Regions from separate parts of the Homo sapiens genome. Here region 2 is linked to region 1. The links come from fine-mapping of genetic effects on gene expression. A gene starts in region 1. The other region holds a variant in brackets. All regions are shown on one strand. Distances are between the middles of the regions. Region 1 holds the start of LBR (lamin B receptor). Region 2 overlaps DNAH14 (dynein axonemal heavy chain 14).

What was found. PIP is the estimated chance that this variant, and not a neighbour inherited with it, causes the effect.
Region 2: its variant is fine-mapped to the expression of LBR in whole blood (TOPMed, PIP 0.98).

What each region holds. Positions count from the first base shown.
Region 1 is chr1:225,425,304-225,430,826 of GRCh38, reverse strand. It overlaps LBR (lamin B receptor), which reads left to right and starts at 2,789. Exons shown (of 14, transcript NM_002296.4): 1 at 2,789-2,873. RefSeq lists a silencer at 2,373-3,202 and enhancers at 3,035-3,706, 3,707-4,379.
Region 2 is chr1:225,376,571-225,381,570 of GRCh38, reverse strand. DNAH14 (dynein axonemal heavy chain 14) reads right to left here. Exons shown (of 86, transcript NM_001367479.1): 79 at 4,135-4,334; 80 at 1,249-1,412; 81 at 1-188. Among named protein-coding and RNA genes, the nearest start is that of LBR, 49 kb to the left of the region's middle. The variant C/A (reference allele first, on the strand shown) is at 2,653.

The sequences.
Region 1 (5,523 bases):
GCATCATGTTAATTGTGAGCTCCATTTCTGTGTGAATAGAAACCATATCAAACATCATCAGTAGAAATGTGTTTTTATCGGACAGCTTTTGAGGTACCTCTACCTTATGAATAAAGGCTTTCTGCAGTTTGCAGCATACAGAAGTTTGTTCCTTATGTAACAGTACCAAAAGAATCCAACTGGATCTCACGCCACGTGAAACTTTACCTACACGTCTTTCCTGAAAGAGATGTTTCAATCCTGGGAACCGAGATCCTCTGGAGACCAGAGCCAAATAACTGCCACATTGGAATGCATTCCGCTGGGGGTTCCTGTATTTTATATATGAAAGCTTCCTGGCCGCATGTGTGTTTTGGTTGGCTTTAGTGGCAGGACTGAAGGGTTTTGCTTTGCTTTTGTTATGTGAATGGGGAAAGGGGCTTTGCCACTCATGGCCTCATTAACAACAATGGTGCCAAGATGCGGACTTTTAAGTGACTTTTACTTTATAGATTCTGAAAACCCACAACTTGCTAGTTGTGAGTGACAAGCATCTTTCTGAGAACTTTCTGAAAATTCCCCACTTCCAAGTTTACACAGCCTTTAGTAGACTTAAAAAAGAAGAGAAAAATACCAAACAGTTCCTTTGTTGAGAAAGCAGCCTACATATAGATCTGATTGTTCATGGTATGTTTGAGTCCACGAAGTAGAAATGAACAAAAATTATTGCTTAGTTTTCCTGATGTCAAATCAGTTTTGTTTTAAAAATGTCATTAGTAATTTATTAGGTAAAATGTTAGCTAAGCTAACTCTAGTTAATTTACAAAGTTTTGGCTTCATTTTGTTATGATGAGACTTTATAAACCTGATCTTTAAAATAAGGTTCTTAAAATTTTTAAAAATTTATTTTATTTATTTTTTGAGACAGAGTTTCGCTCTTCTTGCCCAGGCTGAGTGGCAGTGGCATGATCTCAGCTCATTGCAACCTTCACCTCCCAGGTTCAAGCGATTCTTCTGCTTCAGCCTCCCGAGTAGCTGGGACTACAGGTGCTCGCCACCGTGCCCAGCTAATTTTTGTATTTTTTTAGTAGAGATGGGGTTTCACCATGTTGGCCAAGTTGGTCTCGAACTCCTGCTCAGGTGATCCAACCGCCTCGGCTTCCCAAAGTGCTGGGATTATAGGCGTGAGCCACGGCGCCTGGCCAGGTGTTTTTTTTTTTTTTTTTGAAACGAATCTTCTTCTATTTCACAAGTGGAAATCATCCAGGAAATGTGCACCTCAAGGGAAATCCAGTGAAATCTTGATTCTGGGTAGAACATATGAGAAAAGAATAGTGTAGCACTCACTGCTTGGCTATTTGGGATAGGATCTGTCTTAGGTCCCCATAAGCGCTTTTATTTCTGTGTAATTTACTGCAAAACTCTATGAGGTAGGACTAATATTATCTTATGTCAAGGGTTAAGACAATTGAGACTTGGGGGTTTGTCAAAAATAAAAGATTTTCTGACTTTGGAGTGCGATGTGCATTTCTGTTGCACAGATCTCCACCAAGGGCAAATTCGATGGCAATGACAATTTGATGTCAGAACTTCTCAGGAAAGGCTCTGATGAACTCATTCACACTGCATGTGAATGACTGAGAAAACTCGATGTATTTTCACTTTTTTTTTTTTAAGAAGTAAACCTGGGTGTTTTGTAGTTCTATGAGAAAATGAAAGCTGAAGCTAGGCTATAGATGAAAAGTTCTATTCATTATTACAATTTAATAATGCTTCCAAAATAGCAATTCACTTAAATATACCTAGTTAGGGTGTTAAGAAATACTTTGATTAAAACCACACTGCAAAATAGGGAACTTCAATGGACTGCTTTAAACTCTCGACCTCAAAGGAAGGAAATCAACTAACCGATAATGAAAACTAGCAGAAAAAAAAAAGCTTAGGATCCGTAACAGATTCGGAGTCAACAATGACATGACTCAGCATTTTGGGGTTCAATTAAAACCAGGCTTGTAGGTTGCAGGTCAAGTTGTGTTTCGGTGTGTAACGCATAAAACTTCTTGTTCCACGCTCCGCGGTGTTGGGGATTTTCTACTGCATCTCGACAGCATCTCGGGTAACAACCGAGCCCCTCCTCGCAGCGTAAGTCGTAGGAGCCCTCGGCCATTCTTCCCCCTCCCTCCCGCCGCCGGTCCCAGCATCGGTCCGGGTTCGCTTCTACGCAGGTTCAGCGGCCGCGGACACAAAAGCGCCCCTGCTCGCCTTCGATGCCGCTGCTTGGTCCAGGGGCTTCTGTGGGATTTTAACACGCTAAGGAGGGCACTCATAGTGTTTTACCGAGAAACGCTTTCGAGCTCGGATCTTTGGTGATCACTTCAAGAATGTATTAGTTTTCTTTGTAGCTTAAAAAAAAATCTCGTTCGCCAAGCCACCTGGCACCCCAAACACTGCTGCGAGCGCTGGGAGGGAAAGGGCGGGAGCGCGCGGGCTCCGTGTGCTGCGAGGGCGCCTGGGCGGCTGAGATAAGGCGGTGGCAAACGTCGCGCTCCGGGCCGCCCCGCCAGACTCGGTTTCCCCCGCTCACCGGCCTCCCCGCCCCCAGGCAGGGTGGGGCGGGGCGGACGCGCCACGGCGCGCGACCAATCGACAGCGCCGGGGATGATTCAAAAGGTCGAGGAGCCAATGGGAGCCCCGGGCGGCCTCGCCGGTGGGGAGGGGAGGCGAGGGGAGGGGAGAAGCGCCGCGAGGCGGGGCCGGGGAGGCGCGCGCCCGGCTTGCGGGACTGCGGGGCGCGAGAGCGCGGCCGGGTAGCGTCGCGCGCGTGGATCTGCCGCCGGGTTGCTGTGCGACTATTCTCCGGGAGCCGTCCGTGTCACCGCCGGAACCTGGCGCAGGTGAGTGCTTCCACCCCCGCCCTGCTCCCAGCTCCCCGCGGCGCGTTCTTCGAGGGGCCGCTGGGGGAGGAAGCCCGAGGCCGGCGCAGCGGCCGGGCCGGGGACCCTGGGCGCGGGGCCTGGCGCGGCGGCCTTCCCCTCCTCTCCTCGCCTCCTCGTCTCCTCCCCTCCTCGCCTTTTCTGGCCCAGTCGGGTGGTCGGGGCGGCGGCGGGCGAGGCTGGAGCTCGCCCGAGCCGGGCCCGCTGCGGAAATGGAGCTGGGGGTTTTAAACTGCGGACGTTTCCCTCCATGTTGGCGGCGCGGCGCGGCTGTGGAGCGGCGGCGGCAGGGAGGGTTCGTGGGCGCCTTTGTCCTGCCCCACCGCAGCCTGGCTCCCGGCCCCTCCGAGCGCCCGTCTGACAGATGAGCAGGCGGCCCCGCGGTCCTGCAGTAGGAGGCTGACAGGGCGCGGCGGCCTGGCGGGACGGGGAAGGGTCTGCGGCCGAGGTGGGCTTAGATTCGCGCTGCTTGTCACTGGCTTTGAGGGTCGTGGTCGTCGCGGTTTGGTGATTCTCCAGGCACACTGCATGGCTGCTCGCTCCTATGCGTTGAATTCCTTCGCCCGGACAGTCTCAAAAATCGGGTATTTAGGCGGGTGTGCGTGTTCCTGCTAAAGCACGGTCCTGCTTTTTCACCTTTTTGAGGGTTCAGAAAAATGTTCTAATGACAGCCAGCCTCGCACTGCCAGTAGCCTCAAGGGGCACTTAGTAAAGCACTTGCTTTCGGAGGGCTTTGTTGAAGGCGCTTTCCCAGAGTGATTACGGGGCCCGGTCGGGTGTTCACACGAGGGCGCGGTAGATACCGTGGTCCGCGCGTGGACACCTGCAGCGCGAGGCGCGGCGCCTGGGCAGTGCCAGGGTGAACAGGCCCCCGGGGACCTTGCACGTAAACACGTGTAGATCTGTAGTTACGCATTGTAGTAACTGGTGTGTGGGAGAAGATGGAGCTACGGAGAAGAGCAGAGGGATCCTAATTTAGATTAGGCAACAAGTCCAGTTTAAGTTTTGTTTCTCAGGCTGCCTGGGAAGAGGGAGAAGAACGAGCAGGAGGGGAATGATGAGCTGCCCAAGGATGTTTATGGGGAAGAAGGCGCTTCTGCCTTTACAGCCAGGAAGGTGGCCTTTCTGTTGCTTCATGAAGCAAAGGGCGCGGAGCAAGGCCCGGGGTTCCTGTTTGCATTTTGCCTAGTGGGGCTACCGGGGCTCAGGTGTGAAAAGGAAGCTGTCCAACGTCATTCGAGCGTCTTGCTCTATGCCACGTTTAGATGAATTTGGAGAAGTGAAGGAAAGATGGCTGGAGACCCCTGTAATGTTAATGAGCAGAGAATTGTTGTGTTCACAAACAGTAACATACCGGAGCTGGAATGTGTGAGGATTGCAGTGCCAGTTGACTCTGAAGTTAGCGGGCATCTGGCTTAATAGAGAAAAACCTGAGGGTCTCCGTGTTTTTCCTGTTTATGGCGAATGAGGACATTGGGTGCAGTGAACAAAATTTTTCTTTACAAACACACTTGCCTAAAACATCTCTTGTAAGAAAATCCTGTGTGTATCTTGACTCCTGTAGGTGAGTGCATAGTGAGTGACACGAACAAATGTGGGGCTTTTGTGTGCCATCCTGGCTATTTCACTCCTGTGGGGGAATATATTAGGATGTGATTGCACTGTATCCTCACGTTTGACAATTGTGTGTGGATCTTGTGTAAAGTGGGGGTGCACATCATGTTGTTGGCTTCATCTTTTGGAACATTTGTGTATAAGATAATGGTCTTCTAAGAAGAATGCCGGTTCATTTTGTTTGTTTTTCAAGCAAATCTTAATTCTTCTTTTAAAAAGTAAGCTTTAGAGACCTAACAGGTATCCACCATATGTGTTAACTTGTTTAACCCAGAATAATTGATAAGAATCTTTTTGGCACTGGCCTGCGTTTATATTACACAGATACTGTGTATGTGGTGTGTAAGTGCAATGGAAAGATGCCAGTAAATAAGTTTTTAAGAACACGCAGAAACTGTTCAAGGGTCTTTTAAAACCTCAAGTAGCCCCTGCGTCCTGAAGGGCTTGTGTTTCAAAAGTTTATAAAGAGTTTTTTGCAACTTGAGCATCTTCCTGTAGGAAGACATAATTGCCTTCTTTTAACTCTGGCTGACCAGTGTAGGAGAGCTAGTACTAGTAAGAGTGGTTTGATTTTGGGGGGCCTAGGGAGGAGGAGGGGGCTCAAGAGAAGAGAGAAGGAGGGTACATTTCCTTCCTCTTTCTTTGTACTTGGAGGCTCTGAGCTAAATGTTGAAATAGGCAAAGCTGGATGTTGTCACCTTCCGTTTTTATGCCCCTGCTCATGCAGAGGTGTTCACTGCCCCCCTGCTCCCTAAGTGCCCCTCGGGTGACTCAGCCAGGCCTGACTTCATCCCGAAAACTTGTGGGCTCCTCCCCACTACTCCAAGCCCAAACCCATTCATTACCCCAGTGATGCCCAATCTCAGGTAGGTGTAGGGAAGAAAGCTGCCTCTCTTACCTAATGTGTTAATTGACTGACATCCTCTAATCACCAGATAAGTACTTGTGTTTTCTTTCATCTACCAACCTAGCTGCCATCTCTGTAAACTAGTAGAGC
Region 2 (5,000 bases), 49 kb after region 1:
TGTAGGCACTCTCATATTAAGAAAAGAGTTAAATATTTCCTCCAATTCTTGGGTGAGGATGATCTCTCCTTTTATAGCAAGCTGAAGATCTTTTAAGGATTTATGTATGACAAATAATAACTTATCAAATCGTTTAATTTCTTGCTTCAAAAAGGTTAGCAAGACACAATGGATAAGGGGGTCGTGATCTGGATTTTAAAAAGAAATAAAATTTTGATATTTTACAGATTAAAAAGAGGCTTTACATGGAGGGACTTAGGCTTTGAAAGTTAAGGGAATTTTGTGTGTCTTGACCAGGGGTTGATAAACATTTTCTGTAGAAGGTCAGATAGCAAACATTTTAGGGTATGGGGACCACACCACCTCTGTGAAAGCTACTCAGCTCTCCCCTTGTAGTGTGGGTGCGGCCACACTATCTACTATGTGTGGATGCATAGACAATATGTCATGAGTAAGTGTGGCTGTGTTCCAGTAAAGCTTTACTTATGGCACTCAAATTGGAGTTTCATATAACATTTATGTGTCACAAACTATATTCCTTCTTTTGATTTTTTTTAACCATTAAAAAATGCAAAAGCCATTTTAGTTCACAGGCTGTACAAAAACAAATGGTGGGCTGGATTTGGCCTGCGAGCCCTAATTTGCTGACCTTTGATTGAGACTCAACAATGACACTGTTTTGATAAACTATTGCTCAATATTTGGTTCCCAAATAAACTTCTGCAAAGGGATAAAATATGGGTATTAAAATTTAACTGGGAAAATTATCATAGTCTAGCAATTTAGCCACTTAGAGCTGGGTTTGGAGTCATCTCTGGGCAATCAGGCTTCCTCTGTCTTCCTGGGCCTGCCCTGATTCCCCTTAGCTTCTTGGAGTCAAGTGGTCTTTCAGCAGAAGGTCCATCTAAACTTCCGCTGTTCCAGAAGGCAGAGAGGCAGAGAGAACAGGCACCTAGAACTCTTGACAATCTCCAAAGCAGAGTTGCTGCTTTCTAGTTTGCTACACTTGTTATTTCTTCACTTTTGATTTCAGTGCCACACGCTACCCACCCCCAAACTAAAGCGTGATTTTCTTCTGTGCTCTCTGTCTTTCAACTTGGAGAGAGGAGGCAGAGACTGAGTTTTCCATCTTATCTCAGTATTTTCACTTCTACAGAATTTTTGTCTTATCTTTACCTTACTCCTGACACCAGAGTCCTTTCTTGAGGAGAGTGAGGTAAGGGGAAAAAGCTCCTGTCCCATGCTCACCTTTGAGATTTTTAGAAAGAGACTCCCAAATGGAGCTTGACATCATGCTCTTCAATGTGCTTGGAGTTCCAACAGCAATTTCTTCTTTCTCCACTGTCAGTGGCAGCCGCTTTAGCAAGTCGGATAGAATTTCCATCACCAGTTCATCCTTACTCTGCTCAGGTCTGCAAAAAAAACCAAGAGAAGAATGAGACACAGAACAGGAAGTGGGGAGATGGGGAGAGATTTGTTAAAGGATTCAAGATTACTGGTAGACAGGAGGAATATGTTTAGTGTTCTATACCACTGTAGGATGAGTATAGGTAACAAAAATAGATTATACATCTTCAAATAGCTAGAAGAGAGGATACTGAAAGTTCCCAACACAAAGGATAAATGTTTGAGATGATGGACATATGAATTGCCCTGATCTGATCACTATACATTGTATGTATTGAAACATTACTATGTACCTCAGAAATATGTACAATTATTATGTCAATTAAAAAAATAAAAATTGGCTGGGCACAGTGGCTCATGCCTGTAATCCCTGCAATTTGGGAGGCCGAGGCAGACAGATCACTTGAGGTCAGGAGTTTGAGACCAGCCTGGCCAACATGGTAAAACCCTGTCTCTACTAAAAATACAAAAGTTAGCCAGGCATGGTGGGCGCCTGTAGTCTGAGCTACTCAGGAGGCTGAGGCACGAGAATCACTTGAACCCGGGAGGCAGAGGTTGCAGTGAGCCAAGATTATGCCACTGCACTCCAGCCTGGGTGACAGAGCGAGACTCTATCTCAAAAAAAAAATTTAAAAAAAGAAAAGGAAAGGAAAATAAAATAAAAGAAATCAAGAGAAAAACAAGCTACAGATCTATCTAATGTTAGAGGGTCCTCTGCTTAAGTTCCGTCTGAAGATAAATGTATCTTCACAGAACCACAAAATTATGCTATGGATGATCTTACAGAGACCATGGAATTCATTTCATTTTGTAGATGAGAAACTGTCCAATGTACTTTAGACATTTGCAAGGAAATATGTATTATAAAAGCTTTTTTAGGATTTCTTTGTAAAATAATCATCTGCATGCATCTGCAAGACAATGAAAAAGAGGAGGCAACTAAACAGAGCACGCTGAAGCAGCCGCATGGAACATTCCACTGCTTGCCTCATTCCTGTGTTGACACGAAGGGCTTCTTAATCACACACTCCGCGGGTGGTGACAGGAGGAGCGCGTGTCCAGGCCTAGGTGAGGCTGCGATACTATGCAAAACCACTAAACACTAGAGCTGGAAGAGCTCTTTGGAATCCTTTTAAAGATGATGAAACCAGGGCCCCGGGAGGTGGGAGGACCTCCTTAGACAGTTAGTGGATGAGTAGGAAATGGGGCACATCTCTTTTGAGTTCTGCTGCTCTATTTACTAGC[C/A]GGGACTGATTTTTCTTTTTCTTTTCTTTTTTTTTTTTTGGGACGGAGTTTTGCACTGTCACCCCAGCTGGAGTGCAGTGTTGCTATCTTGGCTCACTGCAACCTCCCCCTCCCGGGTTCAAGCAATTCTCTGCCTCAGCCTCCCGAGTAGCTGGGATTACAGGTGCTCACCACCATGCTGGCTAATTTTTTGTATTTTTAGTAGAGACGGGGTTTCACCATCTTGGCCAGGCTGATCTTGAACTCCTGACCTCGTGACCCACCCGCCTCGGCCTCCCAAAGTGCTGGCATCACAGGCGTGAGCCCACCGCGCCCGGCCAGGACTGATTTTTCAACAAACACTCCAGGTTTCACAGTCAAATGAATATTATCCTTCAAGGTAAGCAATAACCTTAAAGCTGCCAAGAAGTATTTAGTCCAACAGTGCTGCTTCCAAACCAGTTTACAGATCGCCTGAGGTCACATGGCTCCTTACTTTGTCATCACACTGTTTTGACTGTAAAGTTGATTTTCTCCTTAGAATTCAACCCAGGTAGCTTCAAATAATTCAAAAGGTCAAAAGGTGTCAAAAATCAAGCTTACCTTCAGAGGGCAAAGATTTGCTACCACTAAGGAAATTACATTGAATATGATAGATGTTTGGATTAAGTCCCACAGACAAGTCTCTAATAAGCAAAGGCAGCAAGACTGGGATAATTATAGCCTCTCAAAGTGACCAAAGGGACATTAATAAGCATATCTAGTATGTTTATTAAAAGCATTTCCTTATAATATGTTGGTATCTTAAATATTTGTAATGTTTAAGAGAATTGGGCCTCGTAATACCTTGTGTTAGATTGGGGTCAGTCTTGTGACCCCAATTAAAAGAGATAATTGAGAAACTGATTTATGATTTTAGGTTGAAATCTTGTTAGATTGATATAAAATATTAGGGAACAAGAAAATTTAAGATTCACCATATTTATTTGATTATTAGATTTATAAAAGTTACTCAAAGATTTGAGAAGGTCTGGAAGACAAATTGAAGTACATTAACTTTATAATGAATATTAATATATTTGAAAATGTTTAAGCTTATAAATGGGGTCAAACATTCAAATATCTTTTAAAAGTGTTAAAATTTGTTAGACGTACAAATTGAAAAATTAGAACTTAAATACATAAGGAACTCATTGAAGTAGAATTTAGTTTCTTTACCATGTAGACTATACTTTTCTATATATCTCTTCAAATGAATTTTTTTTTTAGACAGGGTCTCAGCCTCGCAAGTTACTGGGACTACAGGTGCTCACCACTACACTCAGCTAATTTTTGTATTATTTGTAGAGACAGGGTTTCACCATGTTGCTCAGAGTGGTCTCGAACTCCTGAGCTCAAGCAATCTGTCCACCTCAGCCTCCCAAGGTGCTGGGATTACAGGCATGAGCTGCCAGACCCAGCCTGATAATTTTTGACCAACAATTTTTCCTAGCGAGTTCTTACCTGATCATGAGGTTGGCAGTGGTAGTTTTTGGTTGCATGGCAATCAGATTTTCAATAAACTTTTCGCCCTGGGTCTCCCAGCAGCTCCTGATGGCCTCTGGGTGTATTCCTAAGACCTCGGGAAGGTCATCATCAGGTAAGGACTGGATAATGTGTATGTAGTCCTTTATGCTTGCAGATCCTGGAACTGGCAGACATATCTGAAAATTTAACATTTTGTTAGCTTTTTTCTTCAATCCTGCTACTTCTGAACACTTTGTTGGTTTTTGCCAGAGTAAGATACCTACTTTCAGTAATGCTTGAAGACAATATTTTCCCATGAAATTTTATACCGAAGGCTTTCTTATTTGCATGTGGTATATTATAGACACTGTCAAAAGCAACATTTGGGACTACTGTATTGTAATGTGCATATGATATGCATGTATAACTTTCTTTTTGGGAAAAGAGAGAAAGAAAAAAAAAACGCTTTAAAGGTGAGGGTGATTCTGACCACCCATAGATAATGAATGCAATAAGGCTTGAACAAATCATTTTACTTTAGTGAAACCTATAGAAGGAATGTGAGAATGATCTTAAGAATAATTGACCACTGACCAAGAAGAGAAATGCATTGTTCATATGGTCAGGAAAGTGGGTGATGGTGGCTTTCTTGATATCATTAAGGAAAATGTTGAAGAATTAATGAAGGTCAGAGGGAAAAATCAAATAACAGTCACTGATTAAAAAAATTACCTGCAGAAGAAGCAAGATTATAACAAAAAACAGGAAGAGCTGGCAAGCTGGAACTGTCATAAAATTCCTAGTGTTTTAAAGCAACTGAACAATTGAAATACAAATTTCAGAATACCCTTCTGTCATCTGAT